2 linked regions of the Homo sapiens genome follow. The protein of the gene in region 1 interacts with the protein of each later gene in a pairwise test. Each region holds a gene or a part of one and is shown on either strand. Other genes may lie near its edges.

Evidence for each region.
Region 2: the proteins of DRAP1 (region 1) and NFYB interact in binary tests that used the Homo sapiens proteins (3 or more experiments, as listed by UniProt).

What each region holds. Positions count from the first base shown.
Region 1 is NC_000011.10:65,915,570-65,922,063, forward strand, and holds DRAP1 (dr1-associated corepressor), read left to right. Parts: upstream 1-3,856; 5' UTR 3,857-3,932; coding exon 3,933-3,974; intron 3,975-4,210; coding exon 4,211-4,283; intron 4,284-4,378; coding exon 4,379-4,472; intron 4,473-4,773; coding exon 4,774-4,893; intron 4,894-4,999; coding exon 5,000-5,093; intron 5,094-5,314; coding exon 5,315-5,403; intron 5,404-5,760; coding exon 5,761-5,866; 3' UTR 5,867-5,994; downstream 5,995-6,494. Other genes in the region: UPF0696 protein C11orf68, read right to left, coding at 1,890-2,649, 3,341-3,462. UniProt on the Homo sapiens protein: The association of the DR1/DRAP1 heterodimer with TBP results in a functional repression of both activated and basal transcription of class II genes.
Region 2 is NC_000012.12:104,135,211-104,142,987, reverse strand, and holds the start of NFYB (nuclear transcription factor Y subunit beta), read left to right. Parts: upstream 1-4,777; 5' UTR 4,778-4,847; exon of another isoform or gene 4,848-5,779; intron 5,780-7,455; 5' UTR 7,456-7,534; coding exon 7,535-7,540; exon of another isoform or gene 7,541-7,544; intron 7,545-7,777. UniProt on the Homo sapiens protein: Component of the sequence-specific heterotrimeric transcription factor (NF-Y) which specifically recognizes a 5'-CCAAT-3' box motif found in the promoters of its target genes.

The DNA of each region.
Region 1 (6,494 bases):
GGCTGTGTGTGTGACACACTCAGCTATGGAAGAAGCCAGTGCTGTTGACCCCACTTGGGCATCTCTGTGGGACCCATGAGGTACCTTGGCCCACTTTGGTGGAGTGCAAGGCCCTGGCAGCCCGAGGGAGGCAGAGCACCAGGCTCCAACTCGGAGACCACCCAGCTCTGGGGACTTCCCAAGGCTGGGCAGAGGGGGACTCAGCCCTGGGGAAGCTCAGGGTGGGGAGGAAGCTGGAGAGAGCACTGAGCCAGCATCTCATGACTCAGCCACTTCCACCCAGTCAGCCCGGTGGCATCTCCGCTCCCCTGCTCTAAATTCCGATTCGGTGAGACTGCTGGAGGCTGAGTCAGTCCCGGCACGGCACGAGAGCTGTGTCCCAAGGGGCTCCCTGCCAGACACCCTGGCCCCCAATCAAGGCCAGGGCCAGGCACGGGGCTGGAGAGGTGGCGGGGTGCAGGAGCCAGGCTCCAAGGCTACAGCAAGTCCCAGCAGAGTGGGGCGGCCCAGTGAGATCACGTAAGTGAACATGCTTTGTGAGTTATGAAAAGCTCCCTGTTTTCCTCAGTGGGCTCAGGGACCTCATTGCCCGAGGAAGGGACTGGGATGCAAGTCCTAGCTCTGCCCACCTCATCGCATGACACTGAGAAAACTCCTTTCCCCTCTTGGCTTCAATTTCCTTGACCACAGAATGGGGCCAACATCTCCCAAAGGGGTTGGGAGAATTAAATTTAATGCATATGAAAGCGCTTTGCAAACTGTCTAGTGGGCCCTATGATGGTCAGGGTGGTAGGAGAGGAGAGTATGAATGGCAGGGCTTCCAGAGAGACTACCTAGGGTTGTGCAGGTTGTTCACTGCACAAGGATGTCTAGCCTAAGGTGCTGAAATCCAGCCCATCCCATCCTCTGCTCCCCAAACCGCGTACCCCGGCCTAGGACTGCTTGGACTTGGTACCTTTCTCTAATATGCACAAATGCACCCTGAGGGCTAGCAGTGGCCCCTTAGACGTTCCTGGAGGGGTCAACCCCTGGAATTATGGGAAATCTCTGAGAAACTGATTACGGATGGAGGGGAAGTGGGGCTGGTTTTGCAGAGGTTCTTAGAGACAGTGCCTAACCTCAGCAGTGAGGCACAACTTATTGCTAGGGGCAGCTATGGGGGCCTGGCCGGGTCAAGGGGGTAGTCTCTCCTGGCCCTGCCCCTCCCTAGCAACGAAAGCAGGTAACCACCAAGACAGTATTTTAAAAAACACTCAAGACACAGACCCAAGCCGGGTTTTATTGAAATGCCAGGAGCAGGCACATGTCAAAGTAGCCAAGGAAGGGGGGACAGTGGTACAGGCTGTGTAAGTTGGCAGGGATGGGCAAGCCTCATGTCCATGGTCCTGGCATCCCCTCTGCCAGGGGATAAGTAGGCACAACTACCCTCCCCTCAAAATGGCATGCTCAGGCCAGTGGGGCCCCTACCCCTGGACCATGAAGGCTCCAAGAAGGGCTGGAAGCACTAAGTTTTCTCTCTCCTGAGGGGGAAGGAAAGAAGGGGAGATGCAGGAGGAAGGGGAGGTATAGCGGGGGATGAGCGTTCCAAGAAGTCTCTCCTTCTAGGTGTCTGCACCCAACTCATGGTGCTGGGCAGTGGAGAGGAGCAGCATTACAAAGGGAGGCTGAAGGCTCATCCCTCAGGGAACCGGAGCCCCCCAGCCTGTGGGGCTTGTGTCAGCCCTGAACAGAGGGCAGAAGTTCAAGGGGACTGAAGATGCAGGTAGTTCCCAAGTGACCTAGGAGTCCCCAGAGCTGGGGGGTGTGGCCTTCATAGGACAAGGAGGAAGACAGGAGGATCCAACCCCAGCATGGAGGGGGGAGTGGGCAGTCTCCCCAATTTGGCCCCCCTAGGTCAGTTCCACGTTGTTGGCACGGTCAAGCACTCGGGAGCCACGGGCACTACCCCCAAGCTGGAAACGGCTCTCATAGAGAGTGGGGCAGAGGTGCCAGCGATTGGCCCGGTAGATGCCCAGGTAGGTGTAGACATCAGGCTTGTAGGTGAGCAGGCACTTAATGCCCGCTGCACGGATGGCTGAATCCGCCTCCAGTACACCCAAGCGGTCCGTGAAGTCGTCCGTGTAAACACAGATGACCTGGCGCCCACCCTCCTTGGCACGTGGGCTCACCTTGGCCACCTGAAGCTGGCCTTCAACCACGGCCCGGGCAATGCCAGCCCAGGCGTGGTCCAGCTTGAAGCCCGGTGCCAGATGCATAAGCCACTTGCCCGAGAGCACGTGGTGGGTGATGGCGAGCTGGCGCAGGGTACCCGGTGTGATGGGCCGCCCACTGGTCTGCAGAGCTTCCCAGGCTGCCTGCAGGCCCTGCACGTCCCCGGAGTTGGGGCTGTAGCCCTGCCCATACACTGCAATCCAGCCCACAGGCTCTGAGTTGGGTGAACCGGGGTCCCCATAGCGGGTAACTTGGGATGGTGGGTACTTGGCCAGCCAGGCATCCAGCTCAGTGGCAGGCGTTGTGCGGGCATCAAACACTAGCCAGGGGTCCATGTCAGCTGCCATGGCCTCTGCAGCCAGGTGCTCGGCGGTGAAGCCATCCTCACGGCCACCTGGAGAGCCCTCCTCTTCCAGCTCCTCACCTGGTTCCATCCTGCTGTGAGGGAACCGAGTCAGGGCAGGGTCTGAGACAATAACTACAGATGCCAGGCACTGGATTAAACTGTGGCCTTGAGTAAGAGTTACTGTCGATGCGCCTCAGTTGCCTCATCTTTACAATGGGATAACAACTGTTCCTGTCCCGTAGATCTGCTATGAAAATTAGATGCCTGAGGAGTCAGCGCTCCAGAAGGGTTGCTGCAGTTATTACTATTCTCCTTGACTTACAGAAAAGGAAACTGAGGCTGAGAAAAAGGACTTGCCCAAGGTCACACCTGCAGTGCGTGGCAGGGCCGAAGGGTGAATCCAGGCGTGGGAGCAACCAGCCCCAGCTACACCTCCCGGCCCTGCCAAGGCCCCCTTTTCCTGGCAGGTATCCGGTGCGCTGGCATTTAATAGAGGAACGCAAAGAAGCGCACGTTCGCGCAGCTCCCGAGGCCGGCTCTGTAAGGCCAGGCCTCCCAGGCAGGCGTTATCGGGCCCACTTACAGACGAGGACGCTGAAGTCCAGAGAGGTTACAGGCCGTTCCGAGGCCAATGGGGCGGTTCCCAGACTCGAACCAGGGCTTGTTAGAGCCTGCAGGAGAGCCAGGCTCCGGCCGTGCCGCGCCCGCCGCCATTAACGCCCACGGGCCCGAGCTGTGCTCCCGCCCCGGCCCTGCCCTGCCCCTCCCGCCGCCCGCAGTCACCTCCGGCCTTCGCTGCGTTCGACGCCGGCCCAGCCCCGGGCCCGGCTCCGCTCCTGCCGTGGCTCCGCGCCACCGCCACCGCGCCCCACCCCCGCCACGGCCGCCGCCGCCGCCGCCGCCATCTTAGCGCCGCGCCACCTCAACAACAACTTTATAGACAGGCGCAGCCACAGGGCGGAGCCGCGGGCCTCAGCGGCCGCAGCGGCCGCGCTGTGGGGCGGGGCCGGCAGGGGAAGGGGCGGGGCCGACGGGGAGGTGCTGACTCGGGGGCGGGGCCATCGCGGGAACCCCGGGAGGGGCGGGCCGCGGGGGGCGGGGCCAACGTTCGCTCTTCTGGCCTTGGGGGCGGGCGGGAGCGGCGGTCCAGACTGGGGAGGGACGCGCACCGGCCAGGAGGCTTCAAGAGGAGGGCACTAGGGCCCTGCGAGCGGCGTCTTAACCGGCGGCGCTAGGACTCCGCGGGAAACGGCGGGGGCGGAGCGGGCGGCACCAGGACCCAGGGGAACCGCGACGGGCGGGCGGCGAGCAGGCCCGGGAGCCGGGAGGCTGCGGGCGGCGGCGCTGGACCCGACGCGGCGAGAGAGGCCCCGAGATGCCGAGCAAGAAGAAGAAGTACAACGCGCGGTTCCCGCCGGTGAGCACGTGGCAGAGCCCGGCAGGAGTGGGCCCGGCTCCCGGGTGGCTTGGGCCCAGTTCCCGCTGGGCAGGCGGGCGCGCCGCGGTGTTCGGGGGCCTGGACGCCCCGCCCCCTCCATGCCCTCCCCGCGTCCGTGTCCCCCGCCCCCTTTCTCCGGGGATGCCCCTTCCTCCCCCAGCACCCCCTTAGGGGACGGTGGCGACGGGGTCTGAACTCTGCTCCCCCACCCGCAGGCGCGGATCAAGAAGATCATGCAGACGGACGAAGAGATTGGGAAGGTGGCGGCGGCGGTGCCTGTCATCATCTGTATCCTGCCGGGGGCGGACCGGGTCGAGGGGCGTGGGGGAGGGAGGCAGCGGGTCGCCCTCTCCTGCCCCGGAGTTCTCCTTGACGCTCCTCAGCCCGGGCGCTCGAGCTCTTCCTAGAGTCGCTGTTGAAGAAGGCCTGCCAGGTGACCCAGTCGCGGAACGCGAAGACCATGACCACATCCCACCTGTGAGCGGCGAGGAGCCGGGAGGGGCCGGCGGGTTTGGCGCGGGGAGTTCACACACTGAGGAAGGCAGAGCCTGGGTGGCGAGGGAGGTGGGCGGCAGCCGGGACACCAGCAAGGCCACAGACTGGCAGAGGAGAGGCTGGGCTTCCAGGCAGAGGGAGCCACCTGAGTAAAGCAGGGCAGGCCCGGGAGCGGAGATCGGCCCGGGCTCCAGCCTGACATCTGGGGCCCCTTGCTGCCACCCACTGCGGGTTTGGGTGTCTGGGCCCCTCTTGAGTGCCAGCCCCTCCTCACCTCTTCCAGGAAGCAGTGCATCGAGCTGGAGCAGCAGTTTGACTTCTTGAAGGACCTGGTGGCATCTGTTCCCGACATGCAGGGGGACGGGGAAGACAACCACATGGATGGGGACAAGGGCGCCCGCAGGTGGGGCCAGGGCCTGGCATACAGTGGGGAAGGCCAAGGCCACAGGGCTTGGGGGTGGCCAAGGAGTAGGGAGCACTCCGGGCAGATGGACTGTACCTTCCCAAAGGGGCCGGAAGCCAGGCAGCGGCGGCCGGAAGAACGGTGGGATGGGAACGAAAAGCAAGGACAAGAAGCTGTCCGGGACAGACTCGGAGCAGGAGGTGAGTGAGGCCCCAGCCCTTCGCCCTGCCCTTGGTGATGGGACAGGCAGCCTCGCCCCAGGCTGAACTGGCAGGAGGCCAGCTCTCATCCTTTTCTGCAACCTGTTTGCTCACTGGTTTATTTGTAAATTGGGGCTATGAGGGTCTACTGCTGTCCCTGCCACTCCCAGTGATGGGTTCGTGTCTTTTCTTGTCAACTCTGACCTCTGCGGTGCTCACAGGATGAATCTGAGGACACAGATACTGATGGGGAAGAGGAGACATCACAACCCCCACCCCAGGCCAGCCACCCCTCTGCCCACTTTCAGAGGTGAGCAGCCCAGAGGCATGGGAGGGTGCTGGCAGACTCCCCAGAGCCAACTTACCCCTCTTGTTCTCCCTGGCCCCTTGGTCTTGTTGATTGTGGCAGATTTGTGGGGTGGAAGGAGAATAACTGAGGAGGGCTTGAAGGCAGGAGACTGTTCTCCCGAAAGATCCTGCTCCACCCTGCCAGGGCCCGTGGGTGGGGCCTGGGCCTGCCCTGCGTGAGCTGCCCTGGGCCTTGGCCGCATGGATCTGGAGGGTGGTGGTGGGAGGGTCAGATGGGGGAGGGAGGGTCTTGGCAGCTGCCCCTGTGGAGGGCACGGTGGGGCTCAGGCCTGACTCTCTCCTGCCTTCTGCCCTGCAGCCCCCCGACACCCTTCCTGCCCTTCGCCTCTACTCTGCCTTTGCCCCCAGCGCCCCCGGGCCCCTCAGCACCTGATGAAGAGGACGAAGAAGATTACGACTCCTAGCGCCTTCTGCCCCCCAGACCATAGCCCCTTTTAGTTGGTTTTAGTTGCTCTGGGGGGAGGAGAGAAGGTAGAGCTGTTCTTAAATTTATTAAAAAAAAAAATAAAAGGGAATCTCAGTGTCTGTTCCAGGCTCTGCGCAGGACGTCATGGTTGCCATCCCATCCACCCACCTGCCTTCCCCACATGAAACTGGGAGCTGGGGCCGGGTGCGGTGGCTCACGCCTGTAATCCCAACACTTTGGGAGGCTGAGGCGGGCAGATCACCTGAGGTCAAGAGTTCAAGACCAGCCTGGCCAACATGGTGAAACCCCGTCTCTACTAAAAATACAAAAATTAGCTGGGTGTGGTGGTGCATGCCTGTAATCCCAGCTACTAGGGAGGCTGAGGCAGGAGAATCGCTTGAACCTGGGAGGTGGAGGTGGCAGTGAGCTGAGATCACGCCACTGCACTCCAACCTGGGCAGCAGAGTGAGACTCCATGTCAAAAAAAAAAAAAAAAGAAACTGGGAGCTGGGGCCGCGTCAGTGGCAGGTGAGGTGGCAGCGAGGGGAGAGAGGGGTCATCCGGGGAGGCTGGAGGCCCTGGGTCTGCTGAGTGCACCACAGCTGCGGACAGAAGGGAGTTGGGAG
Region 2 (7,777 bases), on another chromosome or scaffold:
GTGGGAAGAGACAGACAATAAATCATAAACATAACAAATAAGGAAACTATATAATATGTTAGAGGGTTATAGCTGAGTGGGGGTAGGGAGTTGGAATTGCAATTTTTAGATAAGTGATCAGGGCTGGCCCCATTAAGACATGGAAGGAGGTGAGGGAGTGAGCTATGTGGCTATCTGAGGGAGAATGTACTAGGCAGATGGAACAGCCAGTGCAGAGCCCCTGAGGCAGGAGCATTCCTGGCAGAAATAAGGACTGCAAGGAGTGCAATTAGCAAAGGAAAAGGTAGGAGGAGATGAGGGTAGAGGGGGAGCGGAAAGGGAATAGATCAAAGATCCCATAGGTTGTTGCCCAGTGAAGAGGCCACCATTCACGTCTGCAACAATTAAGTGCTGAACATATTTCTTGCTAACCAGAGGACAGCAGTACTTGTAAGACAGTGTCTCTGAACAAAGGAATCTGTGAATCTTATACAGTGTTTTGGGAAGCATGGGGTTCGGAGGTTGGGGAACTCTTAGAAGCTGGACTGTTTAGAGATGAGTTGAACTTTAGATGTGGAAGAAGGATTACTAGAGTGTGGCTGTTGCTGATTGGCTAATTTTCAGAAGCAAGTCACTGATCAGGAGATTGTTATTGATTGATTAAAACAGATTCTGGTTGTTTCTTGTCACTATGACCAAAGAACAATCAGTATCTTTTTGTTGCTCAATTTGGAATGAAGGAACTTGCCACTCTGTCTTACAAGGCCACTGGAAAGTCTTTGTCTTTTACTTTGAGAGAAATGAGGAGTTAATAGGGGATTTTTGAGCAGTGGAGTGACAGGATTTGACTTATATTTTCAGAGGATCTGAAATCTTGGCTGCTGTGTACCAGAGTGGAAGAGGGGAGACAAGTCACTGCAGTCACCCTGATGAGAGATGTATTAGGTTGTTGTTGCATTCCTGTAAAGAAATACCTGAGACTATGTAATTTATACAAAAAGAGGTTTAATTGGCTCACGGTTCTCCAGGCTGTATAGGAACCATAAGGCTGGCATCTGCTTCTGGGGAGGCCTCAGGAAGCTTCCAATCATGGTGGAAGGCAGAATGGGAGCAGGAACTTCACAAGGCAAAATCAGGAGCAAGAGGGAGAGGGGGAGGTGCTACACACTTTTAAACCACCACATCCCAAGAGAACTCACTCAGTATCTCGAGGACAGCATCCAGGGGATGATGCTCAACCATTCATGAGAAAGCTACCCCCATGATCCAATTATCTCCCACCAGGCCACACCTCCAACACCGGGGATTACATTTCAACATGAGATTTGGCTAGAACATCCAAATCCTTTCAGGAGATGTGACTTGAACCATGGTGGTAGTAGTATGGGCAATGAGAAGTGTTTTCTCCCTTTTTTTTTTTTGAGACAGAGTCTTGCTCTGTCACTCAGGCTGGAGTGCAGTGATGCAATCTCAGCTCACTGCAGCGTCCACTTCCCGGGTTCAAGTGATTCTCCCATCTCAGCCTCCTGAGTAGCTGGGACTACCAGCATGCAGCACCATGCCCAGATAATTTTTGTACTTTTTGTAGAGACAGGGTTTCACCATGTTGGCCAGGCGGGTCTCAAACTCCTGAGCTCAAGCAGTCCACCCTCCTCAGCCTCCCAAAATGCTTGGATTACAGGCATAAGCCACTGAGCCTGGCCTGTTTCCATTTTAGATATATGTACTTATAGCCAACAAATAAACAAGATAATCCAGTTAGGCTAAGGGTATTGGAGCAAATATCATATTTACTTTTACATAGAATAATATAGCTGGATGACAGGATAGAGAGTAACTGGGCGGGGCTACTTAAGAAGAAGGGATCAGGGAAGTCCCTCATTGAAGGGGCAAGACCTCAGTGATGAAAAGAAGCCAGTGAGGATCTTAAGGCTGGTGCGTGTGTGAGGAGCAATGCATAGGCCAGTGGGTCTAGAAGGTGGTGAGGTCAGGGTTGAGGAAGAGCCACAAGCCGGGTGGGAGAGGGAAGCTGAAGCCAGATCCTTCTAGGCCTCAGTGCATAGAATGGATTGAGAAGAGTGGAGCAAGAGAAGAATCAGGAAGGTGGAAGTGGAGACAATATTCTACTAGACCCTGTCCTCATGGGAATTTTACGAGACCTCATTGAAGTGATGAAGTAAAAACTGTGAAGTCTTCATGGGGCCAGGGATTCTGTTTCATTGTTTGCTTAATTATGACGCCTAGAGAAATGGCGATATGAACTAACTGGCAGCTGTGGTGTACAGACTCGAAATAAAGACACTCAATTACCTGTCTCTGACTTTGAATGCAAAGACTAGGTTAGCTGCAGTGTTTTTTCCAAGACTAAATTATGATCTTGGCCTTCCTCTTTCACCAAGTCATCAGAAAAGTGGTTAACATTTATTGGGGGCTTCCTGAAATAGATACAGAAGAAACAGAGAACACAGGTTGGTTGTTAAGGCAGGATGACCTAGGATCCAACTGCAGAGGGGATGTGGACCGGGTTCCATTTCTCCTAGAGTTCTGGCTCCTCAGGGTAAGGAGAGTGATTCATTCACCTTTGTAGCCCTTGGGCTCCTAGTACAATGCCTGCAGAATGTAGGAGCTGATATTACCTTTTAGTGGAATTTGAATTAAGCACATAGTTTAGATCCACAGTACTGAAATGATAAACTATTAACTCAGAAAAGTAGTCATCTTCGCATCTTTTGGTTCACCATCCAGAATTGGGAGAAGGATTAGTCATCTTTCTCCCAATTCTTTTTTTTTTTTTTTTTTCCTTTTTTGAGACAGAGTTTCATTCTTGTCGCCCAGGCTGGAGTGCAATGGCGCGATCTCAGCTCACCGCAACCTCCGCCTCCTGGGTTCAAGTGATTCTCCTGTCTCAGCCTCTCGAGTAGCTGGGATTACAGGCATGCGCCACCACGCCCGGCTAATTTTGTATTTTTTAGTACAGACGGGGTTTCTCCATGTTGGTCAGGCTGGTCTCGAATTCCTGACCTCAGGTGATCGGCCTGCCTTGGCTTCCCAAAGTGCTGGGATTACAGGCGTGAGCCACCATGCCCAGCCCCTTCTCCCAATTCTATTACTTTATATTTCCTGCCTTTGAACCTTTGAACACATCATTTCACTCCTTAATCTCCACTTTATGGGTAAGCATAGAGAAAGGGAGAAATTAAACTCAGGCCAATTTTTCCTTTTTTTTTTCTAAGCAAATAACACCTTTTAAATGTTTGATGGAGATTGAAGAAATTCATGCTATATAAAGATCTTAGGATAACTTTTTTTTTTTTTTTTTTTGAGATGGAGTCTTGCTCTGTCGCCTAGGCTGGAGTGCAATGGTGTGATCTCGGCTCACTGCAACCTCTGCCTCCCGGGTTCAAGCGATTCTCCTGCCTCAGCCTCCTGAGTAGTTGGGATTACAGGCGCCCACCACCACGCCCGGCTAATTTTTGTATTTTTAGTAGAGACGGGGTTTCGCCATGTTGGTCAGGCTGGTCTCGAACTCCTGACCTCAGGTGATCGGCCTGCTTCGGCCTCCCAAAGTGCTGGGATAACTTTTTTTTTTTAAAGGGCTTTCTATGTATACATTATCCCAAACAACCCTGAGAAGCAGACATTTGGCCAAGATCACAAGCCTGTAAGAAGGGGAGTTGGAATTCAAGTCAGGTTGTCTGATGACAGTGGCATTGCTACTTACTCCTCTTGTCACAATTTGGGGCTTTCATTTGTCTTTTCTTCCATACTTGCCGCAGAAATGTTTAAATACTCTGAGAAACAGTAGGAACTCTATAAATAAAAGATCTCTGTATTTTTACATAATCAAAGCTGGAGAGTTTAATGTGGTGCAGGCCACTCGGTTAGTGGAAGCAGAGGGCATGCCATCCCCAGCTCCGGTTGCAGTGAGTGGATCCAGTGTTGGATTACCCACCTCTGGGATGGTCACTGCTAAGCGAAGCTGAACTCAGGACTGCAGTTTGAGAAAGACAGCGAAGGAGCTTGGCTGCACAGAGGCAAGAACGGGCCACGGATTCTTGCAGCCAAAATGTCATCTGGTTGGGAAAAGCCGCTTGTCAATCTGCAGCTACTAGAGGGGTGGGGGTGGGTGGAAAATGCAGCATCTTAAGTTCAAGATTCAGGGTGAAGGCTGGCTAGACTTAGCAGGGGTCTGCATCTTTAGATGAAATGTGAAAAACACCCAAGCTCAGGGACCAAATGACAGGGAGCGCTGTGCATGCGGCGACGCTAACAGGGACCCAAGGAAAGAAAACACGAGGCGCTGAAGGCGCTCCAGGAGGCCCCCGCCGTTCAGACCCTCCCGGTGGCTCGGGCGCGTCGTCCTAGGGGGCGGCTTCTGTCCTTGGTTTCCCCTTCTTAAAAATCCAGGCGCAGGCAGGCTGAGCTCAGGCGGCTGAGGCACCTCCACGTGGCGGGGGAAGGGGTGACAAAGAGAGGGACGCCCGAGAGATCCCGCTTCGCACAGGCCCGGGTCAGCACCGGGAAGGAGGCCCGCCTAGACCCGAACGGCGCGCCCGGGCAGGGCCCTGGAAGACCTCGCGCCTAGAGGAGCGGCATCCGGAGCGGCGCGGAGGCCTCACAGGAACGCGGGACTGGGCCGGGGGCGGGGCGGGGCCGGGGGCGGGGCGGGGCGGGGCGGGGCCGCGGCGGGCGGGCGCGCGGGCGGCGCGGAGGGAGGGTGTCGCGCCGAGGGAAGCGGCCCGCGGCGGAGGGAGGGGAGGCCGAGTCCTGGAAGCGGAGCTCCGCGCTGGGACTGGTTCCTTCGCAGCCATTTTCTGTCCAACCAAACAGCCGATTGGAGACGGGAGCCAACCAGGGCTGCATTGGAGGTTTGTGTCTCGCTTCGGCCAATGATCGCTCCTAAACCGACTCCACTTTAGCTCGAATGAAATGTCCGTCTCCTCCCGGCGCCGTCCCCGCCGCCAACGCCGCCGCGGCCGGGGGCACTAGCCTCCCGCCCTCCCGCGCGGGCCGAGGCCGGGCCCCGCGCCTGCGAGGCCGCTCCCGCAGCGGGCCGGGCCGGGGAGCGGGCGCGGGGCCGCGGCGCGGCTCTTTGTGCGCCGGGCTGAGGAGCGGCGGGACGCGGGCCAGGCCACCTCACCCTCGCCGCCGTTGAGCTCCGGGCCCGGGGCCGAGGAGGGGCCGCGGGGCTGCGTCGGGGCCCCGCTCTCGACGGCGTCCCGGGCCGGCTCCATTTTGTGCGGGGAGCCGGCCGAGGGGCGGGAGACGCGGCCCGGGCCCTGGCCCCGTAGCCCCGGCGGCGGCGCGAGTCCCCGGGGGCGCCCTCCTCCCGCCCGCGGGGCTGTGGCGGGGCCCGGCGCTTTGTCTGCCCGCACATCCCGGGGGCCGCGCGGCGGGTGGGAGGCAGGCGTTGGGCGCGGGGCCGGGGCGGCCGGGCGAGTCAGGGGATGCGCTCTGGGGGCGGCCTCCTGGCACTCGCAGGGCTGACAGGTCGCCGGGACCAGGCCGTGGGGCCGGGGCCACCCAGGCACCTGCGTGGGGAGGAAGGCATGGCTTTAGCTTCCCCGCAGCCTGGTTTGCGCGTAAAGAATGCAGCCATCTGGCGGTTTGCGGTCCCTGTACTTGCCCCGAAGGTGGGAAGGAAGCCCTTCGGATTGGACTAAGGTTTTAATCATTAGTGGTGGGAGGCGGGAGGATATGCAGGGCCTTAAAGAACGGTAGTCTTAGAGAACAAAGAATTACAGAGCACCCACAAATCGTAATCTCGCCCAAAGCACTCTAACAGGATAATTTAAACAAGGTTAGGTAGCCTGCGACCTTTAAAAAAATGGCATCCCACTAACCCGCATGGACCCCATAGTTGCGTGGTTCGTGCTACAAATCACTGGGGTGGTTTCATCTCTCTTAGTATGGAAACTAATCAGCAACATAAAGTGATGAAAGCAAACGGATCAATATCAGTGGCACTAATCAGTGGGGGGTTTATTTGTAAAGTATTGAAAGTTTAACCAAAATTCCTTAAAAGGCAAATTATTCCTTCCCTGCATTGCTCTTGTATCTTAATTTAAGGATTACTGTATATTGATGCAAAACTCTGGTTGTTGATGCCAAAGAATGGAGGGTGGAGGAAGGGACTACTGCTTTTCTTGGATACAAATTTGCATTTCTTAAAACATTAAACAGATGTATGCATTCCCTTGAGCTTTTACATATATCAACCTGCCCTTAAGAAAATATACACCATATGAGGTGACAGTGTTTTTCTTTAATGTACTGAGTCTAAATATATACTGAATCAACTATTTGGGTGAGTGAGTGTGGTGTGGTATGACTCCCTGCCCACACCCCCCTCTCCCATTCCAAGCAAAATACATAAATATAGCTCCCATGTTTTAAGTGTTCTGAGGGCTTATTTTTTCAAAGACACTCTTTAAAAAATAACATTTCTCGTTACAAGGAAGGACTTTTCTGAGCAGTTTTGGGGTTAGAGGATACTATTAATATTTGAAAAGAAATTATAAATTACTTTTAATATTATAGCAAACGTCAAGCAGTTTTTGCTACCTGGACCTTTTTAGTGGCATTAAAAACTTTCAATTCAGTGGCTACAATTTTTTCTGCTATTTGCTAGATTTCATGCTTGGATGCGTATCAGTATATCTTCTCCCTTTAAAATTAACACTGAAAGGATGTGTTTTTGTTTTGGCATCCTACCCCTCCCCCATTTAATTGTTTCCTTTGAGAAAGAATGGAGCAAATGAGAAATGAAACTTGTAACACAGCAATTGGTACTAATTTGTTCAGCTATTTATGCCTTACAGTGAGACTGAAGTGCTATTTCGATGCAATTTTAGTCAAAAATGGTGGTGCTTCAAAATTATAAATAAGGGTCTTGATTGTGTTGCTTTTTTGATATCTTCTCAGTGCAGAATGTATCTTCATTACAGTATAATCTGAGATTCTTAATTGAAAAGCATTATATTCTCAGATAATTTTTTCCTCCTCTTGAGCTATAGAATGTCTAAATGTTACTCTGAAACATTTAAGAAAACCATCACCAAAAAATTAAGATGATAAGGGGTGTGTTTGCATCTTGAGTGTTAATGTTTTAAGTAATTTAGATGTATAATTTTTGGTCTCTTGCATATTATATAATTTGGTCCCTTTTTGGTGTATTGTAATGAATGTTTATGATGAATATGGCTAAATTCAGGGTTATGTTGGAAAATCCATTTTCTCCTTTCCCCATGGAATTAACTTGTTTTTAAGTTCTCCAAAATAAATCTTTCAAGTCAACAAACATTTATTGGGTGCCTTTTTATACTATTTTATACCATGTACTCCATTGATTAAGAATAGTAGTCAAAATTATACAAGCCCTCTTTAATTTTATGAGAAAAAAAGCCTATAAGTGATACATTTGATGTATTTTTACTATTGATAGATGTTAGGTCCTAATAGATGTTTATCTTTTAGGTTGAAATCACAAAGATTAGACACCTTTTTAGATAGGTGTTCTTCAGCACCACTGACAACACGGTTCTGACAGTATTTCATGACAGTAAGTATATTTTACCATTTTGGTTGTTAATTAGATTTGAATAGTAATTGGCTGGAAATAAAATTGTAACCAATTTATACTGGAGGTGCCTGGTAGAATGAATGCATTTCAAGTCTAGACAGACAGTACCTCTGCTCATTCCTGTTGCTTCCTTATTTTCAGCTTCTTGCATATATTATTTCCCATGGGTCCCTAAGTGCTGTTGAGGCTACAGGGTAGCCTGTCCCAGCTGTAAAG